Linked DNA regions of Homo sapiens. The protein of the gene in region 1 purifies or fractionates together with the protein of each later gene. This does not show direct contact. Each region holds a gene or a part of one and is shown on either strand. Other genes may lie near its edges.

Evidence for each region.
Region 2: the proteins of LSM14A (region 1) and EDC3 purify together in Homo sapiens (affinity purification with mass spectrometry; 2 studies listed by BioGRID). This does not show direct contact.

Annotation. Positions count from the first base shown.
Region 1 is NC_000019.10:34,162,443-34,178,316, forward strand, and holds the start of LSM14A (protein LSM14 homolog A), read left to right. Parts: upstream 1-10,061; 5' UTR 10,062-10,200; coding exon 10,201-10,321; exon of another isoform or gene 10,322-11,030; intron 11,031-15,874. UniProt on the Homo sapiens protein: Essential for formation of P-bodies, cytoplasmic structures that provide storage sites for translationally inactive mRNAs and protect them from degradation. Acts as a repressor of mRNA translation. May play a role in mitotic spindle assembly.
Region 2 is NC_000015.10:74,688,980-74,704,542, reverse strand, and holds the start of EDC3 (enhancer of mRNA-decapping protein 3), read left to right. Parts: upstream 1-8,518; 5' UTR 8,519-8,663; intron 8,664-8,727; exon of another isoform or gene 8,728-9,177; intron 9,178-11,524; exon of another isoform or gene 11,525-11,657; intron 11,658-15,563. UniProt on the Homo sapiens protein: Binds single-stranded RNA. Involved in the process of mRNA degradation and in the positive regulation of mRNA decapping. May play a role in spermiogenesis and oogenesis.

The DNA.
Region 1 (15,874 bases):
TGCCTGGCTGGTTTTCGTTTTTTGTTTTTGGGGGTTTTTTTTGAGACATTCTCGCCCTGTTGCCAAGGCTGGAGTGCAGCACCACGATCACAGCTCACTGCAGCCTTGACCTCTTGGTCAAGTGATCTTCCCAGCTCAGCCTCCTGAGTAGCTGGGACTACTGGAATGTGCTACCACGTACAACTAATTTTGTTTTATTTTTGAAGAGCCAGGGTCTCACTATGTTGCCCAGGCTGGTCTCGAACTCCTGGACTCAGGCAATCCTCCTGCTTCAGCCTCCCAAAGTGCTGGGATTACAGTCATGAGCCACCATGCCCAGCTAGTTTTCTCATTTTAAAATTAGACATAAAGACATGTAACAGAGGGCTGCTCTAACTAAATTAAGAAGCAGCAAACTATGAAATTTTACCATCTATGTATTTAACTATACCAATTCAACGATCCTGCCTTGGCAAGAGAGAGTAAGAGAAAGATAGGAATTAGTAACAATTCCACTCAATGTGCATGCACCCCAGAGCACGTATGGGATGGGCGACACCTTCCCTAGCAATGGTTATTAGTCTCAGTTTCAGAGTGTCTCTCACAGAATAAGAGGTTCACCCAGTGAGAGTGGGTCTGTTGTTCGAAGGGACATATTTTCCAAAACACATGGCCCCCAAATGCAAGCCAAGAGCATTATATATTGCTTAAATGAAGGACCAGCAGTCTATCTCTAGAGAAAAAAAACTAGCTAGGAGGTCCTCCCTAAGGATATAACAGATATGTTCCTAATGGATTTAAATATGGCCAAAGGCTGGGTGTGGTGGCTCACACCTGTAATCCCAGCACTTTGGGAGGCCAAGGCCGGTGGATCACCTGAGGTCAGAAGTTCAAGACCAGCCTGGCCAACATGGCGAAACCCTGTCTCTACTGAAAATGCAAAAATGAGCCAGGCATGGTGGTGCATGCCTGTAACCCCAGCTACTCGGGAGGCTGAGGCAGGAGAATTGCTTGAACCTGGGAGGCAGAGGTTGCAGTGAGCAGAGATTGTGCCACTGCACTCCAGCCTGGGCAAAAGAGTGAGACTCCATCTCAAAAAAATAAATAAATAAAATAAAAATTAAAAATGAATATGGCCAAAAAAATCTTTCAAATTCCTCTTCCAATTAGGCTGTAAATATCTAAATAAGCCACCAGTTTTGCTGTAAAGATGGGGGAAAACAGATAAAGTAAAATATCATACTGATTTTTCAGATGTCTATAAAATAGTCTAAAGGAACTAAATTCTAGAGAAAGAGGACAAGGCTTCATAGGTAGGAAAAATTAGGGATCATTGGGGGCATTTGCCAAGTCTGGGCATGGGCAGGCAGAGGATGGGCCCTGCCACAGAGGATGGGGCTCTCCTTGGCTAAGAAGAAACCACTGATTCTTTAAACATCTCTACGGGCTGGAGCAACAGATGGAAATATCTAAGAACTCAAAACACAGTGCTAGTCTTCCATTTTTGCTAAGTGGGTTACAGTGCAGGAGGCTGGGTCTTCTGTCTTCCTCATTGAAAGACAGACAGAAAACTCCACTAATTCTTCATGCTCAGGTCCAAAATTCCACTAGAAGAAGGGGCCCACAAGACACGCAGATCACATCTTGCCCTTAAGACATTTAAAATCCAGGTGAACAAAAACTAACTAAATCTGCAATTCATCCAACCCCAATTCAGCTCCACTGTTGATTGGATCTGACTGATCAAGCTCCTCATCCTAATTGACTGGCAAGAGGAAAGGGCTTGCCCTCTCCAGGGAAAAAAATATTTACTTCCGTCACTTTGGTTCTTTACAATGTCTAGAATACAGTATCTAGCTAGACACAATATCTGGCATAAAATTAAAAATTATGAGATGCAAAGAAGCAGGAAAATGTGATGCATAATCAAGAGAAAAAACAATACATGCAGATTCTTATATGATTGAGATGCTGGAACTCACAGATAAGGACTTTATGATAATTACTATAAATATGTTAATGAAATTAGAGCATAAAATAGACAAAATGATAAGAAGATGAAGATTTTTTTTTTTTTTTTGGAGACAGAATTTCACTCTTGTCGCCCAGACAGGAGTGCAATGGCATGATCTCGGCTCACTGCAACCTCCACCTCCCGGGTTCAAGCAATTCTCCTGCCTCAGTCTCCCCAGTAGCTAGGATTACAGGTTCCTGCCACCACACCCAGCTAATTTTGGTATTTTTAGTAGAGATGGGGTTTCACTGTGTTGGCCAGGCTGGTCCTGAACTCCTGACTTCAGGTGATCCACCTGTCTTGGCCTCCCAAAGTGCTGGGATTACAAGCATGAGCCACTGTGCCAAGCCAACAAGATGCAGATTTTCAACAGAAAAATACACTCTCTTTAAAAAGATAGCTGGACGTGGTGGTGTGCACCTGTGGTCCCAGCTACTTGGGGGCGCTGAGGTGGGAGGATCCCCTGAGCCCAGGAGGTTGAGGCTACAGTGGGCTGCGCTCGCACCCTATACTCCATCCTGGGTGACAGAGCAAAAGCCTGTCTCAAAAAATTAAAAAAGAGAGAAATCCATTAATCTGGGGATCAAGTGTACTAACACTAAGGTGAGATGCAATCTCAGGATAAGACTTTGGAGTATTGTTTACCATATATACATTTTGTTTGTTTGTTTGTTTGTTTGTTTGTTTGAAACGGAGTCTGGCTCTGTCACCCAGGCTGGAGTGCAGTGGCGCCATCTCGGCTCCCTGCAGCTCCCTGCTTCCCAGGTTCAAGTGATTCTCGGGCCTCAGCCTCCTGAGTAACTGGGATAACAGGTGTGTGCCACCATGCCCTGCTAATTTTTTGTATTTTTACAGTATCTCATTGTGTTGGCCAGGCTGGTCTTGAACTCCTGACCTCAAGTGATCTGCCTGCCTCGGCCTCCCAAAGTGCTGGGATTGCAGGCATAGGCCACCACGCCCAGTCACTATATCTAATTTTTACTGGTTTCCAGAAAGAACTAATCGTGCTGTTCCAAGAAGTGAAGTTAGCCAACAGGATCTACTTCCTCTTTCAATCCAAGGCCACGCTCCTCCCAGACAACCCCAGCCAACGACAGAACACAACAGGGGTACTAGGGCCTAACCATTTCTGTTCCAAAGAGCCATCTTCACTCCAGGGCTTCCTGTTGGGTTGGCCAAGACGTTGTCAGATCTGCAGTACGGTCTGGGGCTCTCCCTGCTCAATCCTGCTTCTTCTCCGTTTTACCTTTCTCAGGCATTACCTCCAATAAACCTCTTAACTCTGGCTCAGCATCTAATTCTGAGAAGAACCAACAGACACACATGGCTTTAGAACTCAACCTGTGGACTGGCCTCCCAAAGTGCCTGTAATCCCAGCACTTTGGGAGGCCGAGGCATGTGGATCACTTGAGGTCAGGAGCTCCAGACCAGCCTGGCCAACATGGTGAAAACCCGTCTCTACTAAAAATACAAAAATTAGGTGGGTGTGGTGGTGCATGCCTGTAATCCCAGCTACTTGGGAGGCTGAAGCACGAGAATCGCTTGAACCCAGGAGGTGTAGGTTGCAATGAGCCGAGATCATGCCACTGCACCCCAGCCTGGGCCATAGAGTGAGACCCTGTCTCAAAAAGAAAAAAATTCAACCTGTGTAAGATGTGTCTCCTCCAATGTGTGTAAGATGACTGACCCAATACCAAGCACAAAGTAGACTTTGTGTACTTTACAAAGTATACAATACCAGTAGATGTTAGATATCTTTGCCTTTTGCATCATTTAGGATATGTGTTTGCTGGTCAGGAGAGACTCAAAATAACACTGCCACAAATAGTGTCACAAAATTCCTGGACTTCTAGCTGATCCTGTGAAATAGTCAGATAAGTGAGTAAAGCCATCTTGGACCCTCTAGACCAGGCAAGCTGCCCTCAATGATTCCAGTTGAGGCTACACGGAACTGAATTGCTTAGTCAAGCCTGATCCATGAAATTGAGAGGTATAATAAAGTGATAATTGTTTTAAGTCACTGAATTTGGGGGTGGTTCCTATAAACAGAACACATCTCCTAACTAATACAGAGACAAAAACTTACCTTAAAAGTTTATATCTAGGCCGGGCATGGTGGCTCACGCCTGTAATCCCAGCACTTTGGGAGGCCGAGACGGGCGGATCACGACGTCAGGAGATTGAGACCATCCTCGTTAACACGGTGAAATCCCTTCTCTACTAAAAATACAAAAAATTAGCTGGGCATGGTGGCGAGCACCTGTAGTCCCAGCTACTTGGGAGGCTGAGGCAGGAGAATGGCGTGAACCCAGGAGGTGGAGCTTGCAGTGAGCCGAGATCGCGCCACTGCACTCCATCCAGCCTGGGCGACACAGCGAGACTCCATCTCAAAAAACAAACAAACAAACAAAAAATTTTATCTAATACCATGGTACCATAGCATTTGGAAATTACTGCTTTCCTCCTTTATTTTCATATGTTGTTTGTTTTTTTTCCTTTTAAGAAAGTCTTTATACTCACACAATTCTGTATTCAGCTTTTTTACTTACATATTATTTCAAAAGCAAGTGCCTGTTTTTGCTACATAAACTTAGTTTTTAATAGGGCCATTTTACATGGAAAGTTTGCCTTTTTGAGATAGAATTCACATATCATAAAATTCACTCTTTTTTTTTTTTTTTTTTTTTTTTTGCGATGGAGTCTTGCTCTGTCGCCCAGACTGGAGTGCAGTGGCGTGATCTCGGCTCACTGCAACCTCTGCCTCCCAAGTTCAAGCAATTCTCCTGCCTCAGCCTCCTGAGGAGCTGGGATTACAGACGCCCGCCACCACGCCCAGCTAATTTTTTTTGTATTTTTAGTACTACGTTGGTCACGTTGGTCTCGAACTCCTGACCTCGTGATCTGCCCACCTCAGCCTCCCAAAGTGCTGGGATCACAGGCTTGAGCCACCGCGCCCGGCCCTAAGTTCACTTTTTAAAGTATACAATTTAGTGGGTTTTCGTATATCCACAAAGCCATGCAACCATTATCATTATATACTTCCAGACATTTTCTTTTTTCTTTCCCTTTTTGAGATGGAGTTTCACTCTTGTTGTCCAGACTGGAGTGTAATGGCACTATCTTGGCTCACAGCAGCCTCCGCCTCCCGGATTCAAGCTATTCTCCTGCCTCAGCCTCCCAAGTAACTGGGATTACAGGCGTGCGCCACCACGCCTGACTAATTTTTTTGTGTTTTTAGTAGAGACGGGGTTTCACCATGTTGGCCAGGCTAGTCTTGACCTCCTGACCTAAGGCGATCCACCAGCCTCGGTCTCCGAAAGTGCTGGGATTACAGGCACAAGCCCCTGTGCCCATCCTACTTCCAGACATTTTTATCACCCCAGAAAGAAACCCTGCGCCCCTTGGTAGTGACTTCCCATTCCTACTCCTCACCCCCATGTCCCAGCCCCTTGCAGCCACTAATCTACTAATATTTTCTGCCTCTGTGGATTTGCCTGTTCTTGGTGTTTCTTTTTTTTTTTTTTTTTTTTTTTTTTTTGAGACAGAGTCTCGCTCTGTCGCCCAGGCTGCAGTGCCTCTCGAGTAGCTGGAATTACAGGCATGAGCCACTGACAGTGAGCTTATCCTTTTTCCATCTGTAACAATTTCCAAATGTACACCTCCATTTCAGATCTCCTGACTTTTAGGGTCATACCAATTATGAAATAGACGCAATTGCTTGGTGTCCCAACAGGCACTTCCAGCTCAACAAGTGCAAAATTATTTGCATCTATTAGTATTTCCATCCTCCCCCCAAATAAACTTCCTTTTATCCGTTCTCCTTATGCTCATCACTAGCCCTAGGACTGACCTAGGTGTTCAGTCCTGGAACTAGGAGTCCTTATCTGGCTACACCCAATCAGTCACCAATCTGTTAGATTCTACTTTATGTTTTGCAACTCATGGTTTCCTGCACCCTAGGGCGGCAGGAACTATGTATAATGCAGCTGATCAGTTGGTAGCCCCTAGTGTAATATGCACATTAATCTCCGTTTCATGTACTAGAAACAAGGTTGAGAACCGTGACACATTTTATGACCATCGCAGGCTTCCTAAAGATCCAAAATCCATTGTTGCTTCCCTGCTTAAGAGCTCCCGGCAACCTGCAGAAAAACTAAATTCTTCCCCATTCATGTTTTCAGCAGTAGAAGCTCTAGAATTTCTACACTTGAGGAGCTATGGGGTAAGAAAGAAGATCTGGAGGATTTGCGAGGCTTGTCCAAAGCAATTCCCAGCTAGTACACTGTTTTTTCCTTATATTTGTCTTTACTTTATGAGGCTAGGGGATGGCTGTTGGACAATATGGGAGAAACAAAGCCCTCAACCCTCACCACCTTTGGTGTGGCCACTGCTATCCACTATAACTCCTAATATACTCTGCATTCTTTAGGCTGTGGCCACACTGAATTGCTTACTTTCCAGAATGCATCTCACTCTTCCTCCTGTAATCACTCCATCTCCTGTTTGATCTGAAAGCTTCTTAATCCCATCTCTATTTCAGGCAAGATTTGAAGTCCCCCTCATACCATAGACAAAAATTGGCTCAAAATAAATCAAAGACCTAAATGTAAGAGCTAACACATAAAACTTAGAAGCAAACATTATGGGTAAATATTTGTATCCTGGATTAGGCAATGCTTTATTGCATATGACACCAAAAGTGCAAACAACAACAACAACAAAAATGAATAAACTGGACTTTATAAAAATTAAAAACTTTTGTGCTTCAAAGGACACTATCAAGAAAGTGAAAAGACAACCAATCCGCTGAATAAGAGAGACTATTTACAAATTATAGATCTGATTAGGGACTTGTATCTAGAATATATAAAAGAACTCTTGCCACTCAACAATAAAAAGAAAAATTGCCCAATTTAAAAGTGTTTAGCTGGGTGTGGGGCTCAACGCCTGTAATTCCAGCACTCTGGGAAGCCAAGGCGAGAGGATCACTTGAGTCCAGGCATTTGAGACCAACCTGGGCAACATGGCAAGGCCCTGTCTCTACAAAAAAATACAAAAATTATCTGGGCATGGTGGTTTGCACCTGTGGTCCCAGCTACCTGGGAGGCTGAGGTGGAGGATTGCTTGAGCCCAGGAAGGTTGCAGTGAGCCATGATAGGGCCACTGCATTCCAGCCTGGATGACAGAGTGGCACCCTGTCTCAAAAAGATACACAAATGGCGGGGTGCGGTGGCTCACGCCTGTAATCCCACCACTTTGGGAGGCCAAGGAGGGCGGATCACCTGAGGTCGGGAGTTTGAGACCAGCCTGACCAACATGGAGAAACCCCCACTCTACTAAAAATACAAAATTAGCCGGGCTTGGTGGTGCATGCCTGTAATCCCAGCTACTAGGGAGGCTGAGGCTGGAGAATCTCTTGAACCCGGGAGGCGGAGGTTGCGGTGAGCCAAGATCACGCCACTGCACTCCAGCCTGAGCAACAAGAGCGAAACACCGTCTCAAACAAACAAACAAAAAAAGATAGACAATAATAGGTGTTGGTGAGGCTGTGGAGAAAATTGGAGCCCTCATACAATTGCCAGTGGAAATGTAAAATAGTGTAGCTGCTTTGGAAAACAGTTTGACAGTTCCTCAAAAAGTTAAACTCTGAGTTACCATATGGCTCAACTACTTCATTCTTAGGAGGATTGAAAACACATGTTCCCACAAAAACTTGTTCATAGAGGTACTCATGGATATTTATAATAGCAGAAGTGAAAACAACCCAAATGTTCATCAACTGATAAATGGATAAACAAAATATGGTATGTCCATACAAAGGGATATTATTTAGCCTTGAAAGAATTTCCGGGCACGGTGGCTCACGCCTGTAATCCCAGCACTTTGGGAGGCCAAGGCAGGTGAACACTTGAGGCCAGGAGTTCAAGACCAGCCTGGCCAACATGGTGAAACCCATCTCTACTAAAAATACAAAAAATCAGTCAGGCGTGGTGGCATGCGCCTGTAATCCCAGCTACTCGGGAGGCTGAGGCAGGAGAATCGCTTGAACAGAGGAGACAGAGGTTGCAGTGAGCCGAGATGGCACCATTGCACTCCATCCCGAGTGACAGAGTGAGACTGTCTCAAAAAAACAAAAACAAATAATTCAACTTCCTCGCATGGACCTTGTACTGAAACAGGGATTTCCAAACCTTTCTTTGTAGCCACTGTGCACCAGCCCCATCAGAGCTCTGTCTCTCTCCTGTGTCCCTCTCTTATGATGCCAGGCTTCTCGCCATTTGCTCACTCAGCTCACCGTCCTGCCTGTGCTCTGCCTTCATCCTGCTGTTCATTCATGCAGCAAATATTAACTGAGCAGCTGCCCTGAGCCACGTGCTGTTACTAGGCCCCTGATGATACGGCAGCAACCAAAACAACATCACTATCTCAAAATGTTTACATTCTAGTGAAGGAGACAGATACATACAAATAATTAAACAGACATACTTGAGAGAGATACATGCTATAAAGAAAATACAAGCTGAGTTAAGGAGATGAGTGGTATTATTTTAAACAAGGCTGTCAGGGACGTCATCTCTGGAGGTGATGCTTGAGCAGAGACTGGAATAAAGTGCTCAAGTACTGGTTGAATTAGACGCGACTGGAACAGAACGAGAAGCTAAATCATGTATATCCTTAGACACCAAAGTCTGGTTTTCTCTCTGTGTAACATGGGATCAGTAGAGTGAGTAGAGGAAGGACATGATCTGAGTTAGATTTTTTTTTTTTTTTTTGAGACGGAGTCTCGCTCTGTCGCCCAGGCTGGAGTGCAGTGGCACAATCTCGGCTCACCACAACCTCCGCCTCCTGGGTTCAAGCAATTCTCCTGCCTCAGCCTCCCAAGTAGCTGAGACTATAGGCGCGCGCCACCACGCCTGGCTAATTTTTTTATATTTTTAGTAGAGACGGGGTTTCACCATGTTGGCCAGGCTGGTCTCGAACTCCTGACCGGTGATGCGCCCGCCTCGGGCCCCCAAAGTACTGGGAGTACAGGCGTGAGCCACTGCGCCCAGCCCTGAGTTAGATTTTAAGAAGATCTCTCTGGCTGCTGTATTGAGAATAAAGTACTGGGGGCAAGAGTTGACACAGAGGCAACTTTTAGAAGGCTACTGCAATAATTCAGCCCGAGTAATCGTGGCTTGTGGGAGAAGTGTAGGAATGGAGATGAGAAGTCAGATTTAGGATATATTGTGTATACATAACGGAGAGGTGTAGTCAGAACAGATGTGGAAGCAAGACAGGGCAAGGCTGACTCACGGCTTTTAGTCTGAGCAGCTGAGTAAAAATGGTACCGTTTACATCAAATAGGGAACGGTGGTGAAGGAGCAGGTTAGAGGGGAAACAGGGAGCATGGCTTTGGACCCTTAACGTTTGAGATTCGACAGAAACCCTGGTTCACGGAATTGATCCAAGCTACATACTGATAATTGGGATTAGTGAGTTACAATGGCGTTGCAAGCCATGAAACTGGTTCAGACCGGCTGAATGAGCGGGACAGGAAGGGGCTGAAACACTTGAGTCCTTGTGAGAGCCCCAGCTCCAGGGGCAGCCTCGGGGGAAGCTCCCCGGGCGATGACTGCGGTAATGGAGCCGTAGGAGCTCCACGAGGTGCAGGTTCAGCGTCTTAGAAGGATGAGCAGCGGCTCGCCACAGCTCGGAGGCGGGTGGGCAGCGCTCCAGGCCGAGGGCCCCGCGTCGGCAAAGACACAGGACCCACGACAAGGCGGCCACGGCCTGAGTCAAAAGGAAGGCCGCGCGCCTCCTCTCCAGCCCGCAGCAAGCGGGTGCCACGAGGCACTCAGCCGGTCCCCGAAGTTCCTCTCACGCGGCCCCAAGACCACCACCGTAGTCCAGGCCAACAAGCGCTGCCGGGACTCCCGAGGCCACGAATGAGCCGGGAGCCACCAGTAGCCGGCCAAGTCTCGCGAGAGCGCGGCCTCGCCCTCCCAGCATGCCCCGCGCCGCCGCCGCTGCCGCCGCCGCCGCCGCCGCCGCGCCGCGGCTTGAGGGCGGGAGGCTGGGGGAGGGTAGCGGAGCCGGCGCCGCCGCCATGTTGGGTCTGAAGCGGCTGCTGTAGGCGCCGACGGAGCGAGCGGGCGTGCGGAGCGGGCGACAGTGGCGTGGGATCTGCCTCTCTGCGAGCAGCTGGGAGCGGCGGCGGCGGCGCCATGAGCGGGGGCACCCCTTACATCGGCAGCAAGATCAGCCTCATCTCCAAGGCGGAGATCCGCTACGAGGGCATCCTCTACACCATCGACACCGAAAACTCCACCGTAGCCCTTGCCAAAGGTACGCGGGACCGGGCCTCAGGGTGGGGGCCGAGCCGGGCGCCGCTCGGGGCTGCTCCCCGCTCCGGCCCGCGGCCTCCTCGTTCCCTCCCCTCCCTCCGTCGAGCTCCGGGAGGCCTCTCGCCTCCCTTCTCCGGGCCCCGGCGTCGCGGGCCGGACCGCGGCCTCCCCGCGGCTCCCTGGTTTCCGCCCCCCGGAATGTCCGCGCCTGAAGCCCGGGGAACTACGGGACTGAGTGCGCGGCGGGCGGCCCTGAAGTCCGAGAACGGGCCGGAGAACACGGAGAAACGCGTCTTCCAACTCCGAAATTCGGGGCTTCTGCCGTCTTAGCACAAAACAAAGCCGGAGTATTCAAAGAATTTTTCCGCCCAGCTTGAGTTCATCGCGGATGCGTTGACTACACAGCACCCATTTTCTCACTTTGTTCATTTCAATTCGTGGCGATCTTCCTCTGGTGAACTCTTGAGTAATGTGCTAAAACTTTGGGTTTGCTCTGCGACGCAGACATTCTCGAAATGCCATCGATGCCGTGGAGCAGATCCCATCTCCCTCGGCTCATCCTCTGTTGGTATTTACCTGTTAAACCGGAATCCTCAAAGCCTGTTGTGCAACCACCTCATTAGGGCGCGTGGTAAAAATGCTTGCTGCTGCCCCGACGCCCCTGTTTCTGGAAACGGGTTCAAGCTTGATCCAGGATCCTTCTTGACCAGGCAAGCTTGACCTTTGATCCAGGCTCAGTGGGCGTTGACTGATCCCTCTGGAGGCTCTCTGGGAAAGGGAATTCGGCCGAGAAGGAAGGTGCCCCTACCCACAGTGTTAATATTTGGCATCCCTAGAGTCTGTGTGGGTTTTGTTTCCGTTCACACGTGCAGGGCCTTTGCTCCGCCAGGAAACCAGAAAGAAAATAAACTTTAGCTCCTGAATCTTAAAGGAAATCTCACAACAGTGTAAAATACTTTGAGGGAAGCTAGATAACCTAGGTGATTTTCCCAGCACTTCTGGTAGAGGTGGGAACTGCATAGCATGGTTAGGGACCCTGTGGATAGGTTAGGTCCAAGGATAAAGAAGAAGATTTTCGAAATCTGTAAAATTTTAAAAATCGTTAACAGATAGGGGAGTGGTTTCACGGGATCAAGTATTTAATAATATTTCTTGGATGCTCTGGTAAATCCTTTATTTATTTATTTATTTATTTATTTTTCTAAGATGGAGTTTAGCTCTTTTTGCTCAGGCTGGAGTGCAAAGGCAATGATTTCGGCTCACTGCAACGTCCGCCTCCCGGGTTCAAGTGATTCTCCTGCCTCAGCCTCCCAAGTAGCTGGGATTATAGGCGCCTGCCACCACCCCTAGCTAATTTGGTATTTTTAGTAGAGACGGGGTTTCACCATGTTGGCCAGGCTGGTCTCGAACTCCTGACCTCAGGTGATCCACCCGCCTCGGCCACCCAAAGTGCTGGGATTACAGGCATGAGCCACCGCGCCCAGCCTCTGGTAAATCTTTTTAATAGCCCTGGTGTTGGGACAAATCTTATACCTGGGTAGGGAACCTTTTGATGTTACAGAACTGTACACCATAAAGGAGTAGTATGAGATGGTGATAGTTGCACAACTCTGCAAATTTGCTGAAGATCATTGAATTATACACTTTTTAAAATCACCAAGTCTAATTTTAAAAGTAGTATGAAAAACCAGGGAGTACCCCCACATTTCCCTCTTCACCTTGTGAAACATTATGCAGTGACACATTACCTCATTAAAACACCTGTAGACTTGGCGGTTAGAAATCGGCTATAGGATGTATGATGGATGGTATTTGGTGTTTATTAAAGACTTTCCCAGTGATGCTTCTTAAGTAACTTAGTTTTTGCTTGGCCTTATTTTGAATTTATTTTTATATTTTTTATACAATAGTTACTTAGCTGTATAGTGTTTTTCTGGCTTTTTGAAATTATGAAAAAGCCTCTCTTTATGAAATTATGAAAAGTGCTGGGTGAGAGCCAGATATGGGTTGAAAATAATTTCTCATTAAAGTGGTTTAATAAATTTGTTTTAAAGTATTGCTTTACCTAATCTGAATTTAAAAGTGTCTTGCCAGCTTAGTGACTCAATAAGTTGGCTGTGTTACCTTTATTCCTCACAAAGAAAAAAAATACATTTGAAAATTTTAAAGTATTTTTGTTCTTTTTTAAAAACTACGAACATATCCTTTTATGCAGGAACCCCAAAAGTCTACATTTTAACAACCCACATTTTAAAAAACTTTTCAGCAGCTTTTAGAGTCAGTATTTCATTAGTCTGTAATAGTTAAATTCATATGACATAATGACATAAAATATAAATTTGTTCTTTGTGTCATGACTTGATAAATATATGAATATAGCAGTGAAAAATTTTTTTAATCATTGAATTTATGTTTGTACTCATGGCTTTGATATTTCATCCCACATCATTATATGCTTTTTCTTTTTCTTTTTTTTTTTTCTTTTTGAGATGGCGTCTCACTCTGTTGCCCAGGCCGGAGTGCAGTGGCACAATCCTGGCTCCCTGTAACCTCTGCCTTCCAAGTTCAAGCAATTCTCCTGCCTCAGCCTCCTGAGTAGCTGGGATTACTGGCGCGTGCCACCACGCTTGGCTAATTTTTGTATTTTTTAGTTGAGACAGGCTTTCACCATATTGGCCAGGCTGGTCTTGAACTCCTGACCTCAAGTGATCCACCTGCCTCAGCCTCCCAGAATGCCGGGATTACAGGCATGAGCCACCGCACCCGGCTGCTTTTTCTTAAGCAACATGAGTTAAATGTGTAACCAGTTTGGGGAATTTGATTATGTTCGCAAAAACTGACATTATCAAACCTTTATATATTAGTCTACATGATATTATCTAATCGAAAACTACATTATAACTGTCTAGTCAATACTGGACACATTTCAGATTTCAAGATTAGAAGCAAGGAGTTCAATCTTAAAATTTTAAAATTTACATGACTTGTTGAGTAATTCGATATCAGAAAATTTCACCTTCCATTTCAAAATTTGAACGAAGAATGGTAGTCTAAAAGATTAAAGCCAAAAGTGTTTGTTTTGTTTTGTTTTCGTTTTTTTTTGTTGTTGTTTTGAGACAGAGTCTTGCTCTTGCCCAGGCTGGAGTGCAGTGGTGCGATCTTGGCTCGCTGCAGCCTCCACCTCCCGGGTTCAAGCAGTTCTGCCACAGCCTTCCGAGTAGCTGGGACTACAGGCGCCCAACACAGCTGGCTAATTTTTGTATTTTGAGTAGAGACGGGGTTTCACCATGTTGGCCAGGCTGGTCTCAAACTCCTGACCTCAGATGATCCACCCACCTTGGCCTCCCAAAGTGCTGGGATTACAGGTGTGAGGCACTGCACCCGGCCTGAAGCCAAAAGTTTATTCATGGAATTTATAATACAGTGTGTATTTGGATGTAGAGATCCCTGTTACTGTTTTTAAACTATGGATTAAGAGTTAATCTCTTTGAGTAACAGTCTTAGCATTCTCTTTTGAACTTTTTTTTTTTTAATTTCTCAGGGAGAGTGTTATTGGGAAACCTAACTACACAGGCTGAAAAGATACATAAGATAAAAATGAAATATTTTTAAACAAACATCTTTGTAACCACCACCCAGGGCAAGACAGACATTGCCAGCATCCCAGAAGCCTCCCACCACCTATATTTTCCCATCACAACTATCACCATCTTAATTTAAGCTAGATATAAATGTTCTTCTGACATTTATAGTTTTACCATATAAGTTTACATCTCTAAATAATAGAGTTTAATTTTGCCCATTTTTAACTTTATGTAAATAGGATTGTGTTGTATATATTTTATTTTTAGCTTTTATTGTTTCATAATATTCCATCATGAATATAACACAAGTTTATTCCTTCTGCCATTGTTTTGGATATTGCATTTAGATTGTTTGCAGTTTGGGGCTATTATAAACAATGCTTTTATGAACATTTCTGTTTAAGTGCACTGGTGCATGTTTATTTCGTTTTCTTGAGATTATATACTTAGAATTTGAATTGCAAGAACATGGGGAATGTTGGTCTTTATCAGGTAATGCCAGGTAGTTTTTCAAAGTAGTTGTTTAGTGGTTTTTACTTCATTTATTAGTATGTAAGAGTTCTTGTTTCATATCCCTTACCAACAACCGTACGTGGTATCATATATTTCAATTCTAGCCAATCCTGGTGGGTATGTAGTTGTATTTAGTTTTAATCATTTCCCTCATTACTAAATGGGGCTGACCAGCTTTTCATATCTGGGTGTTTGGATTTCATTTTTCATAAAATGCCTTTGAAATCTTTTCCTTTTTTAAATCGAAACACGTCTTTTTCTAGAGTTCTGTATTCTGAATATATCTCCATTGTTGGATGTATATATTGCAAACATTTTTTCCATTTAGTAGTTTCTTTAAATTAACAGAAGTTCTTCATTTTAATGTAAACATGTTCATCAGTTTTTTATGGCTAGTGTTTCTTTTTTTAAAACATCATAGAGATACTTTGATTATCTTTAAACCTTTTTGTGCTTTGCTTTTTCACATTGACGTTTATAATGCATCTGAAATTGATTTTGTGTACAATGTGAGATATTCAGAGCTTTATATTTAGTAAGGGATTCACTTGGTTTATATTGTCCATATTATAATTTAGGGCTTGGATATTATAATTTAAATATATCTGGAACTATAAACTACTCTTGAAATTTTTGGCTATTTACATTTGATGTGGTATATAATTAGGGTAACCATATGGCCTAGTTTGCCCTGGTGGAAAGTCCTTGTTTGTGCCTGCTCTGGCATAATTATTAAAAACATCCCGGCTGGGCAGGGTGACTCAGGCCTGTAATCCCAACATTTCCAAAAGGTCAAGGCCGGGGTATTGCTTGAGCCCAGGAGTTCAAAACCAGCCTCGGCAATACAGGGAGACTCCATTTCTACAAAAAATTTTAAAAAGTGCATTAGCCAAGCATGGTGGCATGCATGTCTGTCGTCCCAGCCACTTGGGAGGCTGAGGCAGGGGGATTGCTTGAGCCCAAGAGGAGCTGTGATCATGCCACTGCACTCCAGCCTGAAACATAGAACAAGACCTTGTCTTAAAAAATAACAATGATAGCCTGTAATCCCAGCACTTCAGGAAGCTGAGGCAGGCGAATCACCTGAAGTCAGAAGCTCGAGACCAGTCTGGCCAACATGGCGAAACCCCGTCTCTACTAAAAATACAAAAATTATCTGGGCGTGCTGGTGCATGTCTGTAATCCCAGCTACTTGAGAGGCTGAGGCAGGAGAATTGCTTGAACCTGAAAGGCGGAGGTTAGAGTGAGCCAAGATCACACCACTGTACTCTAGCCTGGGCAACAGAGCGAGACTCTGTCTCAAAAAAAAAAAAAACACAAAATAATAATAATAATCTGTTTTCTCTTTTGAAAATGTTTCAGTGTGGATAAGTTATCACACCACATAATCAAAAGCCTAATTGCAGAGGTGCTGTGAAATGGTCGATGTGCCTTATTTTCTGCTAGAGATGTCACAG
Region 2 (15,563 bases), on another chromosome or scaffold:
CACAGGATAAATTTTTTTTTTTTGAGACAGAGTCTCGCTCTGTTGCCCAGGCTGGAGGGCAGTGGCACGATCTTGGCTCACTGTAATCTCTGCCTTCCATGTTCAAGCGATTCTCGTGCCTCAGCCTCCCAAGTAGCTGGGAATACAGGCACGCGCCACCATGCCCAGCATATTTTTGTATTTTTAGTAGGGATGGGGTTTCACCATGTTGGCCAGGCTGGTCTTCAACTCCTGACCCCAAGTGATCCGCCTGCCTCAGCCTCCGAAAGTGCTGGGATTACAGGCGTGAGCCACCCCACCTGGCCCACAGGCCAATTTTTTGTTTTTGTAGAGACAGGGTCTCACTTTGTTGCCCAGGCTGGCCTTGAACTTCTGGCTTTAAGCCATCCTCCTGCCTCATCCTCCCTAAGTGATGGGATTACAGACATGAGCCACAGTGCCTGGCTTCATTGTGGTTTTCATTTTCATTTCCCTAATGACTACTGATGTTCAGTGTCATTTTATGTACTTGTTGGCCATTTGTGTATCTTCTTTGGAGACATGTCTATTAAGTACTTTGCTCATTTTAAGATTGAGTTGTTTATCTTTTTGTTGTTGAGAGTTCTTTTTTGTTATTTCTTGTTTTTATTTTTTAAACCCTTTATTGACCAAAAGAAAGTTCTTTACATACTCTGAATACCAGACCGTTATCAGATATATTATTTGTAAATATTTTCTACCATTCCGTAGGTTGTCTTTTCACTTTCTTGATATATCTCTTAATGCACAAAAGTTTTTAATTTTGATGAAGTACAGTTTATTTTTTTCTTGCTTTGCTTGTGCTTTTGGTGTTACATTTAAGAAACTGTTGCCTAAAAGGTTATTATTCTTTTTAATCCTAACCTTTGTTTAGCACTTTATAGTCTGGGGCCTGCTTTTATGTATGTGCATTACTTCATTTATAAAGTGACATTTGAGAATGTAAGAGACTTAAATCTTTGAGATAATATAAAAGAAAAATGATCTTAAGTAACCAAGAATGCTTGCCAGCCTCAAAGCCTATGCCATATAAGTAGGCTGACTATAGAAAGTTATCACCTTTAATCAAATTTTTCTCAATGTATTTGAGAATAAAAGCAGGTGGTATTAATAATTACAATAAGGTAACAGGCATGAACAGGGACTATTCCATCCAAACTGGAACATATGTTTCCCCTACATATATGTAATAAGAGACCTGAGTTCTAATGTCAGATTCAGCATTAACTTGCTAAGCTTTCAGCTATACACATGGGGTGAAGTAGATAATTACTTTTTTTTTTTTTTTGAGATGGAGTCTTGCTCTGTCGCCCAGGCTGGAGTGCAGTGGCATAATCTCGGTTCACTGCAACCTCTGCCTTCCAGGTTCAAGTGATTCTCCTGCCTCAGCCTCCCAAGTAGCTGGAACTACAGGTGCACGCCACCACGCCTAGCTAATTTTTGTATTTTTAGTAGATATGGGGTTTCACCATGTTGGCCAGGCTAGTCTCAAACTCCTGACCTCAGGTGATCCATCTGCCTTGGCCTCCCAAAATGCTGGGATTATAGGGGTGAGCCACTGCGCTCAGTGCTTCCACTTGCTTACCTCCCGTTCTCTCCTCAAACCACTGGCATTTGACTTCTGGGGCCTTTACTCCGATTTAAAACCTCTGTCAAAATCACCAAGGACCTCCTAGTTGCTAAATCTAATGTACATTTTCAGTCTTCCTCTGATTTGAGCTCTTTGGAATATTTAGCACTGTTGACTTCTCTTAAAGATCCTCTTGGTCTCTTTGGCATCACCCACTGCTGGATTTTCCTCTATGTTCCTAGCTGCTGCTTCTCAGTTGCCCTTGAATAGACCTCGTCCTGTGCGTATCCCTTAAATGTCGGTGTTCCTCAGGGTTCTGTCCTTAGCTGTTGACTCTTCTCATGCTATATGCTATCCCTGGACTATAGTGCCCATTATTGGGACTTTAATTATTGCCTGGTAATTGACTTCCAAACCTCATCTTTCTTTCCTGAGCTCCAGATCTATTCTTCCAGGTATACATTTCCATGAGTTTTGCAAATGCATATAATCAAGATTTAGTTCTACCACTCCTCCAACCCTCTCGCCAAATCCTTTACAGTCATACCCTCCCATTTTCTACCCCAGGCAAACACTGATGTTTTCTGTTCCTATAGTTTTGCCCTTTCCAGAATGTCATATAAATAGAATTACACAGGCCGTGCGAGGTGGCTCACGCCTGTAATCCCAGTGGATGGTGGATCGCTTGAGGTCAGGAGGTTGAGACCAGCCTGGCCAACATGGTGAAAGCCTGTCTCTACGAAAAAATACAAAAATTAGCAGGGTGTGATGGCGTGTGCCTGTAGTCCCAGCTACTTGGGAGGCTGAGGTGGGAGAATCACTTGAACCTGGGAGGCGGAGGTTACAGTGAGCTCTTGACAAAAATCTTGTAGTGTGATGGTTTATTTGCTGTCTTGTATGACAAGATGTTCCAGGCACATGATGTATATTTCTTGTCCCAACTTGTATTCAATGTTAACACACTATTGCTGGTGATTGTTGAAAAGACAGGTATCTGGAATATGTCATAGCATGACCCACGTGTCCCTAATTCTGTATGATGTTGATCTTTAATTTGAATTTGTTGTATAATTAACAAACACCCCAAGTTCTAGATTCTGTTGCGAAAACATCCTCTTGTGTAAAACTAGATATGCATTAGTGTGGGAGTGATAAGAGCCCAGGGAAAAAGGTGGGGAAGGAAAGAACCAAATTAGACATTGGAGCAATGAACCTCCAGATTTTTTTGCGTGAATGGGGCATGGGGTGGTATTGAGAGTCTTGAGGAGGGAATGGTGGTGATATGAGGCTTTCCCTTGTAATGTTAAGCAAAGAGCTTGGTGCAGCTCCAAAAGTGTGGTCTTCTGCTTCTGGCCATAAGCATCTGAATTCTGTGAGGAGCTCTTTTTTTTTTTTTTTTTAAGACAGGGTCTCACTCTGTCGCCCAGGCTGGAGTGCAGTGGCATGATTTCAGCTCACTGTAACTTCCGCCTTCTAGGCTAAAGCTATCTTCCTGCCTCAGTCCCCCAAGTAGCTGGGACTACAGGTGTGAGCCCCCACACCCAGCTAATCTGAGGAGCTTTTTAAAATACAGATCCCTGGCTTGTACCCCAGACTAGGCGAATCAGAGTCTCTGGGAGTAAGGCCTGAAGTGGTAGGAGCCTAACCTACTGGGGTTTTATTAAAGCCTAACCTTGCTGTGGAAAGAAAAATACCCAACTTTAGCCTCTTTAGCCATCCTGTCCCACCTAAGGTGAAAACTAAGAAATGCTGGTAAAGTTAATAATATATGCTTATGTATAAGTGGCATGAATGACAACAATGATAGCAGGGACAAGAGGGAAGAATTAGGAATATTTTGTTATTATAAGGTACCTGCACTGTTCATGAGGTAGTATAGTGTTATTTGAAAGTTGAATTGGATTATTTGAAAATGTAAATTGCATATTTGCAAATTCTTGGGCAACCACTAAAACAAAAAAAAAAAGAAAAGAATAATTGGTATGTTAATATAGGTGAGAAAAGAGAATCATAAAAATTCTTAATTAAAACCCCAAAAGGTGGCTGGGTGTGGTGGCTCACGCCTGTAATCCCAGCAATTTAGGAGGCTGAAGCGGGTGGATCACCTGAGGTCAGGAGTTTGAGATCAGCCTGGCCAACATGGCAAAACCCCATCTCTACTAAAAATACAAAAATTAGCCAGGTGTGGTGGCACATGCCTGTAGTCCCGGCTGCTTGGGAGGCTGAGGCAGGAGAATCGCTTGAACCTGGGAGGCAGAGGTTGCAGTGAGCTGAGATGGCACCACTGCACTCCAGCCTGGGGAACAAGAGCAAGACTCCATCTCAAACACACATAAACACACACACACACACACACACACACACACACACACACACACCCCAAAGGCAGAAAATGTGTAGAAGACAAATACAGATAAAAAATAAGGGTAACAAACAGAAAATAGTAACAAGGCCAGGTGCCATGGCTCACACCGCAATTTCAATACTTTTGGAGGCTGAGGCAGGAGGATCACTTAACACCAAGAATTGAAAAGCAGCCTGGGCAACATAGTGAGACTCTGTCTCTACAAAACAAACAAACAAATAAAAAAGCTTAGCAGGCTGGGCGCAGTGGCTCACGCCTGTAATCCCAGCACTTTGGGAGGCTGAGGTGGGCAGATCACGAGGTCAGGCGATCGAGACCATCCTGGCTAACACGGTGAAACCCCATCTCTACTAAAAATACAAAAAATTAGCCAGGCATGGTGGCGGGCACCTGTAGTTCCAGCTACTCGGGAGGCTGAGGCAGTAGAATGGCATGAACCCGGGAGGCGGAGCTTGCATTGAGACGGGGTTTCACTTCGTAGAGATGGCACCACTGCACTCCAGCCTGGGTGACAGAGCGAGACTCCATCTCAAAAAAAAAAAAAAAAAGCTTAGCCAGGTGTGATGGTGGGCACCTATAGTACCACCACTTGGGAAGTGGGAGGATTGCTTGAGCCCAGGATTTAAGGCTGCAGTGAGCCACAATCATACCACTGTACCCTAGCCTGGGTGACAGGGTGAAACTCCAACTCACACACACACAAAAAAAGGGCCTGGTGTGGTGGCTCACACCTATAATCCTAGCACTTTGGGAGGCCAAGACTGGTGGATCACTTGATGTCAGGAGTTCAAGACCACCCTGGCCAATATGGTGAAACCCTATTTCTACTAAAAATACAAAAATTAGCCAGTTGTGGTGGCATGTGCATGTAATCTCAGCTACTCGGGAGGCTGAGGCAGGAGAATCGCTTGAACTCAGGAGATGGAGGTTGTGGTGAGCTGAGATCATGCCACTGCACTCTAGCCTGGGTAACAGAGCGAGACGGTGTCTCAAAAAACAAACAACAACAACAAAAAATGAAAAAAAAAACAGTAACAAATATAGTAGACATTAATTCAACTATATCATTAATTAAGCATCAGTCATCTAAATACACCAATTAAAAGACAGAGGTTCTCAGTATGGATGAAAAACAAGACCCAACAATATGTTGTCTACAAGAAACACATTTTAAATATAAAGACATACATAGATTAAAAGTAAAGTGGTGGAGAAGGATATATCATTGATAACACTAATCAAAAGAAAGCAGGAGTAGGTATACTAACTTCAGAAAGAGCAGATTTAGAGAAACAAAAGGTAGGCTGGGTGGCTCACGCTTGTAATCCCAGCACTTTGGGGGGCTGAGGCGGGCAGGTCACCTGAGGTCGGGAGTTCAAGACCAGCCTGACCAACATGGAGAAGCCCCATCTCTACTAAAAATACAAAATTAGCTGGGCGTGGTGGTGCATACCTGTAATCCCAGGTACTCGGGAGGCTGAGGCAGGAGAATCACTTGAACCCAGGAGGCAGAGGTTGCGGTGAGCTGAGATCGTGCCACTGCACTCCAGCCTGGGCAACAAGAGTGAAACTTTGTCTCAAAAAAAAAAAAAGTCATCAGGTTATAAATCTATACAGCAAAACATATACAAGAGCTATATGAGTAAAACTACAAAACTCTGATCAAAGATATAAAAGAATTACATAAATTGAGAAATATTTCATGTTCACAGATAGAAAGAAAATATAGTCAAAATGTCTGTTCTTCCAAACCTGATCTATAGATTCGATGCAATCCCAATCCAAGTATCAGCATATTATTTTTGTGGATGTCGACAAACTGATTGTAAAATTGATATGGAGATACAAAAGACCTAGAAGAGCCAGCTCACTATTAAAGGAGAACAAAGTTGGAGGACTGATACTACCCAACTTCAAGACTTACTATAAACTACAGTAATAATGACAATGTGGTATTGGTGAAAGAATAAACAATCCAGAAGTAGACCCACATAAACGTAGTCAACTGATCTTTGACAGAGGAGTTAAAGCAATATAATGGAGCAAAGATAGGTTTTTCAACAAATTATGTTGGAACAACTGAATTTTCACACACATAAAAATGTATCAGGCCGGGTACGGTGGCTCACGCCTGTAATCTCAGCACTTTGAGAGGCCGAGGTGGGCAGATCAATTGAGATCAGGAGTTCGAGACCAGCCTGGCCAACATGGTGAAACCTTGCCTCTACTAAAAATACAAAAACTAGCCAGGTGTGGTGGCGGGTGCCTGTAATCCCAGCTACTTGGGAGGCTGAGACAGGAGAATCACTTGAACCCAGGAGGCAGACATTGCAGTGAGCTGAGATCGTGCCACTGCACTCCAGCCTGGGCAACAGAGTGAGACTCCGTCTCAAAAAAAAAAAAAAAATTATCTAGGCAAAGACCTTGCACCCTTCATAAAAATTAACTCAGAATGGATTGTAGACCTAAATGTAAAATGGAACACTATAAAACTCCTGGAAGACAACACAGGAGAAAACCTAACTGATCTTGGGAATGGCAATGACTTTAGGGCAATACCAATAGCATAATCTGTGAAAAATATAATTGATAAGCTGGACTTCATTAAAATTTAAAACTTCTGCTCTTCAAAAGAAGAATGAGAAGACAAGCCACAGACTAGGAGAAAATATTATAAAAGACGTATCTGATAGAGGACTGTTATCTACAATATACCCAGAACTCTTAAATCACAACAAGAAAATAACACAATGTAAAAATGGGCAAAATACCTGAATGAACACTTCATCAAAGAAGATATACACATGGCAAGTAAGTATATGAAAAGATGTTCAATATCATATGTCATTAGGGAATTGCATATTAAAACAATAAGATACTACTACACACTTACTTGAACGGCAAAATACTGACACCACAAAACGCTGACAAGGATGTGGAGCAACAGAAACCCTCATTCACTGCTGTGGGAATGCAAAATGATGCAGCCACTTTGAAAGGCAGTTTGGTAGTTTCTCCCAAAACTAAATATACCATCCAATCCAGCAGTTGCACTCCTTGGTATTTACCCAGATGAATTGAAAACTCATGTCTACACAAAAATCTGCACATGATGTATAGCGGCTTTATTCATAATTACCCAAACTTGGAGGCCACCAAGATGTCTTTCAGTAGGTGAATGGATAAACCGCAGCACATCCAGACGATGGAATATTATTATTCAGCACAAAAAAGAAATGAGCTATCAAGCCATGAAAAGACATGGAAGAACTTTAAGTGCATAAGTGAAAGAATCCGATGTGAAAAGGCTGCATACTGTATGATTCCAACTATATGGGATTCTGGAAAAGGCAAAACTATGGAGACAGTAAAAGGAGCAGTGGTTGCCAGTGGTTAGGGGACTGAGAAGGATAAATAGGCAGAGGACAGAGGATTTTCAGGGCAGTGAAACTATCGTGTATGATACCATAATGGTGGATACATGTCATTACATATATGTCAAAACCCACAGAATGTGCAACACCGAGAGTAAACTCTAATGTAAACTATGGACTCTGGGTGATAATGATGTGTCAAAGTTGGGTAATCAATTGTTACCAAATGTACCACTGTAGCACAAGATGTCCATGAGGGGACAAGTTGTGTATGTGCCTGTGTGTACAGGGGATATATGGGAACTCTGTACTTTCTGTTCAGTTTTGCCCTGAACCAAAAACTGCTCTATAAGTGTTCATTAATAACAGTAATTTTAAAAGACAAGGACCCCTTCTGACCTAGGGAATCTCTGGTGATGGAGGGGGAAGGGTGAAGCAGTCCCCTAGAAAGTGTAGATTTTACAAAGTTCTTCAACTGATTTTGTAGAGCTAGGTTTGGAACTGCTACCCTACTCTATGCTATTCGCCCAAGTAGTGGTTCCCAAACCAGGTGTCAGGCTTCAAGGCTGTGCAATATTCCTCATTACACGGTCTTGGCCCTAAACGCATGCTTTCCCGTCTCCCCACAAATCAAGACTCTAAAATGCCAGGGGTAGAAGAGCGGCACTTTCCTGTGTACTGAGTATGGGGGAAGGGAGAGCAGTCAAGCACGGACTGGCTGATTTTAACCCCCAAAAGGGCTGAAGCTGATACGCTTTGAAGATCGACCACGGCAGGAATATCTTGTTTTCTTTAATCCATCAGGGGGTTGTCGCACTTATTAAGTCCCACAGCTGCAGTTTAGCACGGAGGGGCTGTCACGTCACCAGGCCTCCCTGAAAGTCCTCCGCTCCAGCTCTGCGATTGGCGCTGGGGTAACAGGAGGGGAAGCGGGTGCTTTTCATCGAGCCTGCAAGAGGGGGGCCCAGGCATCGAGGCTGGGGAGTCGTGGGTAGAGCCCCGATTCCAGCCAAGACGCCACAGGACATAAGTAAGCGTGGAGGGCAAAATGACTACCCAAGCGCAATTCTGTAAGGCCGAAGGGACGTTCTTCCAACCTCTTAAATTTCCCGGGTGCCACGCCCCTCAATTGACGGCCCTGGATTCCAAGGTGTCGCGCCGGAAGTGACCTCACGGTGGTGGCGTGGAGACGTGGGGGCGCTTCCGGCAGCGGCGGCGGTGGTGAAGGCCGATGCTGTGGGGGTGGGCGTGGAGAGAATTCTTCTGTGGGTCCTCTGGTGTTGAGTGGTCGGCTTGGTGTGGTGTGCGGAGGAGCTCCAGGCCCGTCGGCGCGGAGGTGGGAGCGAAGGGAGGCTACTGGTTTGTGGACGGTCGTGGGAGGGGGCTGCCGGGGTTGCTTTAGGCTTCAGAGTTCCAGGCCTCGTAGACCTTTATAGAGGCAGGCAGGCAGGCAAGAGCTGGGGGCTTCATCGGATGAGCAGGGGACCACGTACTACGGGCGGCCCCAGGAGTTTGGTTTGAGGTGGAAGGCTGAGGACTGCAGGATTCTAAATAGTATGGGGATTGTGTGGGGAGTGAGGCATTAGCTGCTTGGGCCCTTAGTCCAGCCTTGTTGGTGGCTGCTGCAGTTCTTTGGCTCACTCACTCTGTTCTTCGTGCCTCAGTTTCCCTTTGCATAATGAGATACGGTGGCAGAGAAGAACGCCAGTGCCACATCCATGACTGATAGCTTGAGGACGGAGATGAACTGGAGGGTAGAAAAAGAGGATGCCTGAGAAATTTATACCTACCAGGTCACATCTTCGAATCCCAGGAAGTTATCCCTGGATTCATTTCTGCCTTTGATGCAAGTCTGTGGTTCTTTTCAGTACACTTTGTGTGATATTGATTGTATGTATCAATACTTGACTTGCTGAGTGGTTAAAGTGTTTTGGTTTGTGGGAGGCATAGTCCTTGTTGGCTTGGTCAGTTAATTTTCAGTTAATCTCCCAATAGCAATTGCTTCGCCTAACTCTTCAATTGGGAGATTAGTTGAAAATCAACTGACCAAGCCAACAGTCTTCTCCTGTGGTTACAGGTGAGGAACTCGCGACCCAGAATGGTTTTTCTTCTCTTCCTTCGCCACAGACCAAACCGATTTCAGTCTGCTGTCTCAAATACAGGTCTTCACCCCACCAAAACAGAAATGGCTGTCTCCAAGCAGTTTAGTATTTCAACTGGACACCCAGATGGATCCTAATCTTTTTTTTTTTTTTTAATGAATGGCAGATTACGTGTACTGAGCACAAAATCCTCTTAGCTAGTTTCTCTGTATGATGTAAAAACATGACATTTTGTTTATTACCAATTTCTTGGTAGAGCCTCCTTGGCATAGGGCTGTGGGGCTAGAAAAGTGTCTCAAAATTTTTTACCTGTGACCCACAGTTAGATATATTATACATCATGACTTATTGTGCCCCTGCACACTCAGTGTGTACACACACACACACACCAATGAAAAGTTTACTTACCCTTTCTACAGAAGATGCACTCTAAAAAAATATTGGTTGCAACTCACTAAATTGAGTCTGACCCCTAATAGGTCATGACGTATAGTTTGAAAAATATTAAGGCCGGGCACTGTGGCTCACGCCAGTAATCCCAGCACTTTGGGATGCTGAGGCGGGTGGATCACCTGAGGTCAGGAGTTGGAGACCAGTCTGGGCAACGTGGTGAAACCCCGTATGTACTAAAAATACAAAACTTAGCTGGGTGGTGGTGGGTGCCTATAATCCCAGCTATTTGGGAGGCTGAGGCAGGAGAAACGCTTGAACCTGGGAGGGAGAGGTTGCAGTGAGCCAAGATATGCTACTGCACTCCAGCCTGGGCAACAAGAACTAAACTTCTCAAAAAAAGAAAAGAAAAGAAAAATATTAGACTAGGGCCGAGTGCAGTGGTGGGAGGATTGCTTAAGGCCAGCCTGGGCAACATAGCAAGACTCTGTCTAAGAAAAACAACATTAGAAAATGTTTAAAATCCTTGCCATTTGTGAGATTCTGTAATTAATACAAAATGGAAGATGTATCATTTTTCTTTTCTTATCCAGAGAAGGGCTTACTAGAGTTCTCCTAAATTCAGCCAGAACAACAGGACAGGACATCCAAATTGTGGCTCAAAGGAGTGTAGTGACCATAATGATAGTGTGTCAGAATTTTAGCAAGGCATTTATGAAGTTTTTGTTTTTTTTTTTGAGATGGAGTCTCACTCCATTGCCCAGGTTGGACGGAGTGCAGTGGTGCAATTTCTGCTCACTGTAACCTCTGCCTCCTGGTTCAAGCGATTCTCCTGCCTCAGCCTCCCAAGTACCTGGGACTACAAGCATGCACCACCACGCCTGGCTAATTTTTGTATTTTCAGTAGAGATGGGGTTTCACCATGTTGGCCGGGCTGGTCTCGAACTCCCGACCTCAGGTGATCCACTCACCTCAGCCTCCCAAAGTGCTGGGATTACAGGTGTGAGCCACCGCGCCTGGTCTTACTGAGTCTTACTATAACTGAGTGGGCGAGATGGAGGAATTTGCCAGATTGTGGTAGTTAGATGGAGTCATGAGTTTGAAAATCTATGTATGGAGAGGTTTGATTTGTGGACACTACTTACAGCTGGAATTCCGGTGATCTAAACTGGGGTTTCATCACTTTCTTTATATACTTCATGTATTTGAGACCTTATCTAGAAGGTTTGCTTATTGGATTTGGTGCCTTTGTGAAGTAAAGAAAGAGTCATTTGGTTGGTGATTGCCAGAATGGGAAAAGATCTCAATATAATTTGCTCAGTGCTGTTTAATGAAATGAAGGAAGCATGTATAAATGTGAGAAATTGCGCTTGGGTCCAAACAAAATCAACTATACCTATTAGGGGAGGGTGGAGATGTGACCTCACAGGAGTTCTATAATAAAAAGATGTGATGTTTTAATCACCAATCAGTGGTGTGGTTAAGAAGGCTGTGAGAAGAACCGATGTGACCTGCATTAGTATATTGTATCAGGAAAATGCAAAATCTAGAATGAGAAAGGTTGCATCACTGGTAGGCTTGTACCTGGAATATTAGGTTTAGATCTAGATGTGCTAAGAGTAAATTTATGGGCAGAAGTCAAAAGTTTGAAGATATGGTGGTGTTGCTTTGGCATGAATGATTATTTTTCTCCTTGTCATTTCAGGCTTTCAGGTATAGGCTGGGTCACTAGTCTTAAAACATTTCTTCTTGAGAATGTCTAAAAGACTGTGGAATCTGTTAGATCTTATATACTTTTAAGTTGGCACCTGAAACTTTTCATCCTAGATTTACATAGTGTAAGTATTTAATTTTAAATAGTTTAGGATGTAATTTCTGACAAGTAAATATTGACTTCTTAAAAATAAATATAAAATTACCTAAATACAATATCAATTTGATGTTGTAAAAACATACAACTAAACTTTTGAAACAAAGACTGTAAGAAATACATAACATAGCTTATTACATTACTTGATTTTCAGATGTTAAACCCATCTTGCATTTGTGAAATGAACCCTGCTTAGTAATGTATCTACTACTTTTTACATATAGATGGATTCAATTTGCTAACATTTTGTTAATTTTTGTGACTGTGTTCATGATGGATATTGGTCTGAGGTTTCCTTTTTTTTATGTCATCTTTGGCCTTAGTAGCAGGGTAATTATGACCTCATAAAATGAATTGGGAAGTGTTCCTTCCTCCTCTGTTTTCTGAAATAGTTTGTGTAGGATTGGTATTATTTCTTACGTGTTTCATAGAATTTACCAGTGAAGTCCTATGGGCCTGGGTTTTTCTCTCTGGGAAGATTTTACTAATTCAATTTCTTAATATAGTTAGTTGAGTTAGTTTTGGTCATTTTTATCATTTTGGGAGTTTGTCCATTACATATTTTTCCTTTTTCTTTTTGAACTTGTATCCATTCCACTTTTCCCACAGAATTTTATCCTAAAGCAAAAGTCAACTTTCTGTCAAAGGCCAGATGAAAGGCTTTATGGGCCACATGGTTTCTGTGATTACTGCTTAATTCTCACTGTAGTGAGAAAACAGCCATAGACAATATGTGGCCGGGTGCGGTGGCTCACGCCTGTAATCCCATCACTTTGGGAGACTGAGGCAGGCGGATCACGAGGTCAGGAGATCGAGACCATCCTGGCTAACACAGTGAAACCCCGCCTCTACTAAAAAATACAAAAAAAATTAGCCGGGCGTGTTGGTGGGCGCCTGTAGTCCCAGCTACTTGGGAGGCTGAGGCAGGAGAATCGCTTGAACCCGGGAGGTGGAGGTTGCAGTGAGCCGAGATCGCTCCACTGCACTCCAGCCTGGACGACAGAGCAAGACTGTCTCAAAAAAACCCAAAAAAACCCAGAAAATAGCCGTAGATAATATGCAAGTATTTTTGTGTAGTTGTGTTCCAATAAAACTTTATTGGTAGCAGACCAGATCTGGTTTAGGGCTGTAGTTTTCCTACCCATCCTAAAGTAATAAATTTTATGCCTGAAAATTTAAAATTGATCATCTAGTTATCCACACAGATCAGGTTTATGAGAGTAGCATGGAAGTTGATTCCCTTGCTTGCATATCTTTGTGTACCCCCTACGGACATGTGTATTCCAGTGTAAAGACCAGGACTTGATTTCCAAGATGTTGTAGAGGGAATTCATGTATTTTTGTAATTTTGTTTGGGTGAGAAGTGAGGTGGCCCTCACAGCGCCATAACTTAAGTTCCCTATGTGATCGGTATTCTTTCTGGCAAAAGGAGACATTTGAACTAAAATTTTTTATGTTGTAGACACTATATGGATTATCTCATTTAATCTTAAAATAATCCATATAGTATCTTAAAATAATCCATATAGTATCTTAAAATAATTCATATAGTGGTTCTATGAGATAGGTGTATAATTGGCATAATTCCCTACAGATGAGGCAGTTGAGACTCAGATTAGGTAATTTGCCCAGGTCGTAGTGCTGGTTAGTAAGGAAGTTCAGAAGTGAACCAGGGGCTGTGATGTCTGATTTCATTTTTTTCTTTTTTTTTTTTTTTGAGACAGGGTCTTGCTCTGCCACCCAGGCTGGAGTGCAGTGGTGCAATCTTGGCTCACTGCAACCTCCGCCTCCCAACACTTCTGACTAATTTTTTGTATTTTTTCTAGAGACAGAGTTTTGCCATGTTGCCCAGGCTGGCTTTGAACTCCTAGGCTCAAGCGGTCAGCCCTCCTTGGCCTCCCACAGTGCTAGGATTGCAGACACTAGCCACCTGAGGCGTGAGCCACCACACCCAGTGTGATTTCAGAATTTTATTCTCTTTTCACCGTGCTGCCTTTTATGGAAGATATGGGTTTAGTACTGGATTTAGATAGGGGATTGTGCTGGATTTCTTTTTCTGAGGCGGGGTGGGGGTGGAAACAGTCTTGCTATGTTGTCCAGGCTGGTCTGAAACTCCTGGCCTCAAGTGATCCTCCTGCCTCAGCCTCCCAAAGTGCTGGGATGTAGGGCCTGAGCCATCATGCTGGGTTGCATATTTTCTTTTAAGATCTCTGCCTTTCCCAATATTTTGATTAAACAAACACCTTTCCTGTTGTGTGGAACAATTCCTAGTTTTTCAGAAATCTATAACTACTCACTCATCCACAGCTGTTAATTATAATTGTTTTTAGCAGGCCAAGGGTTGTTTATTGGATCTGAATGCTGTGAGTTGTCTGATGTGGCACAGAGATGGAGGTAGCTAGATTTGTAATTGGCAACTTGTTTATTTGTAATTTATGGATCATTTGGGCGCTGCCTTAGTAATATAATAGATGGAAGAGTGTTTAGCGCTACCTGACTTTGTTATCCAAAGGCTTATCAGAATAATGATAAAGTCCCATTACTTATCTGGCATTCAGTAGTCTGGAAATCCTGATAGTTCAGCATTTGAGCAAAATAGTCCCATAATTAAAAGTAATCTGGAAAATCTTGATTATGTCACATCTGTGGCTCCCTTCCTAGCTACACAGATTGTTAGGATAGATTTTAATAACAAGTTGGCAAAATAAGTGTTGGTTAGCTAGCTGCACAAACATTGCATTTTTTTGAAATATTTAACATTGTTGAATACTACACAGAAAAATTAGTTTTTTTTAGAAGTGGAATTGTTTGAAGGATTTATTGTCATGAATAGGCTTTACAGGGAAGATGTATTTTTTTTTATTGTACATCAAATCCTGTCAGCAAACTTACACTAGTAATGTATTAATGAGATGAAGGATATTCCAAAGTAGCTAGATTTGTAATTGGCAACTTGTTTATTTGTATAAGAACAAAGTGGTAAATGAATTAAAGTATTCTTACCTGGAGGTGTTTAAGAAATGGAGGCAGGGCCGGGCGCAGTGGCTCACGCCTGTAATCCCAGCACTTTGGGAGGCCGAGGCGGGCGGATCATGAGGTCAGGAGATCGAGACCATCCTGGCTAACACGGTGAAACCCCATCTCCACTAAAAATACAAAAAATTAGCCGGGCGCGGTGGCGGGCACCTGTAGTCCCAGCTACTCAGGAGGCTGAGGCGGGAGGATGGTGTGAACCCAGGAGGCGGAGCTTGCAGTGAGCTGAGATAGTGCCACTGCAGTCCGGCCTGGGCGAAAGAGCGAGACTCCGTCTCAAAAAAAGAAAAAAAAAAAAGAAATGGAGGGAGAAGGAAGACAAATAAGACTAAATGAACTTTGGTAGCAAGTTCTTGACTGAATAGTAATTCACAACATCTCTGAATTCAGTAGTCATTACAATTTTAGGAATAATTTATTGGGAGAATAACAGTATCAATGAAGCAAGAGTAAATAAGAAGTATGTTTAAGAAAATACCAAAACCATTGCACCCCACCAGAATGAGTAAGTTGAAGAGAACAATAGTACCAAGTTTTGGCAAGATGAGGAGCAGAAAGAACTCACGTATGGTGGGTTGTATAAATGTAGATGGTAATACAAAATGGTACAACCACTTTGGAAAACTGTTCAGTGGTTCCTAATAAAGTCATAAATATAACATGACTTCCTGTGTTATATGCCCAGTAGAAATGGATGTATTTGTCCATCGCAGAAATATACTGTATACAGTTTAAGAATATTATTTGTAATAAGTCAGAACTAGAAATAACCCAACTATGTATCAGCAGTAGAATGGATAAATACATTGAGGCATGCTTACAGAAAACAGCACAGCTATGA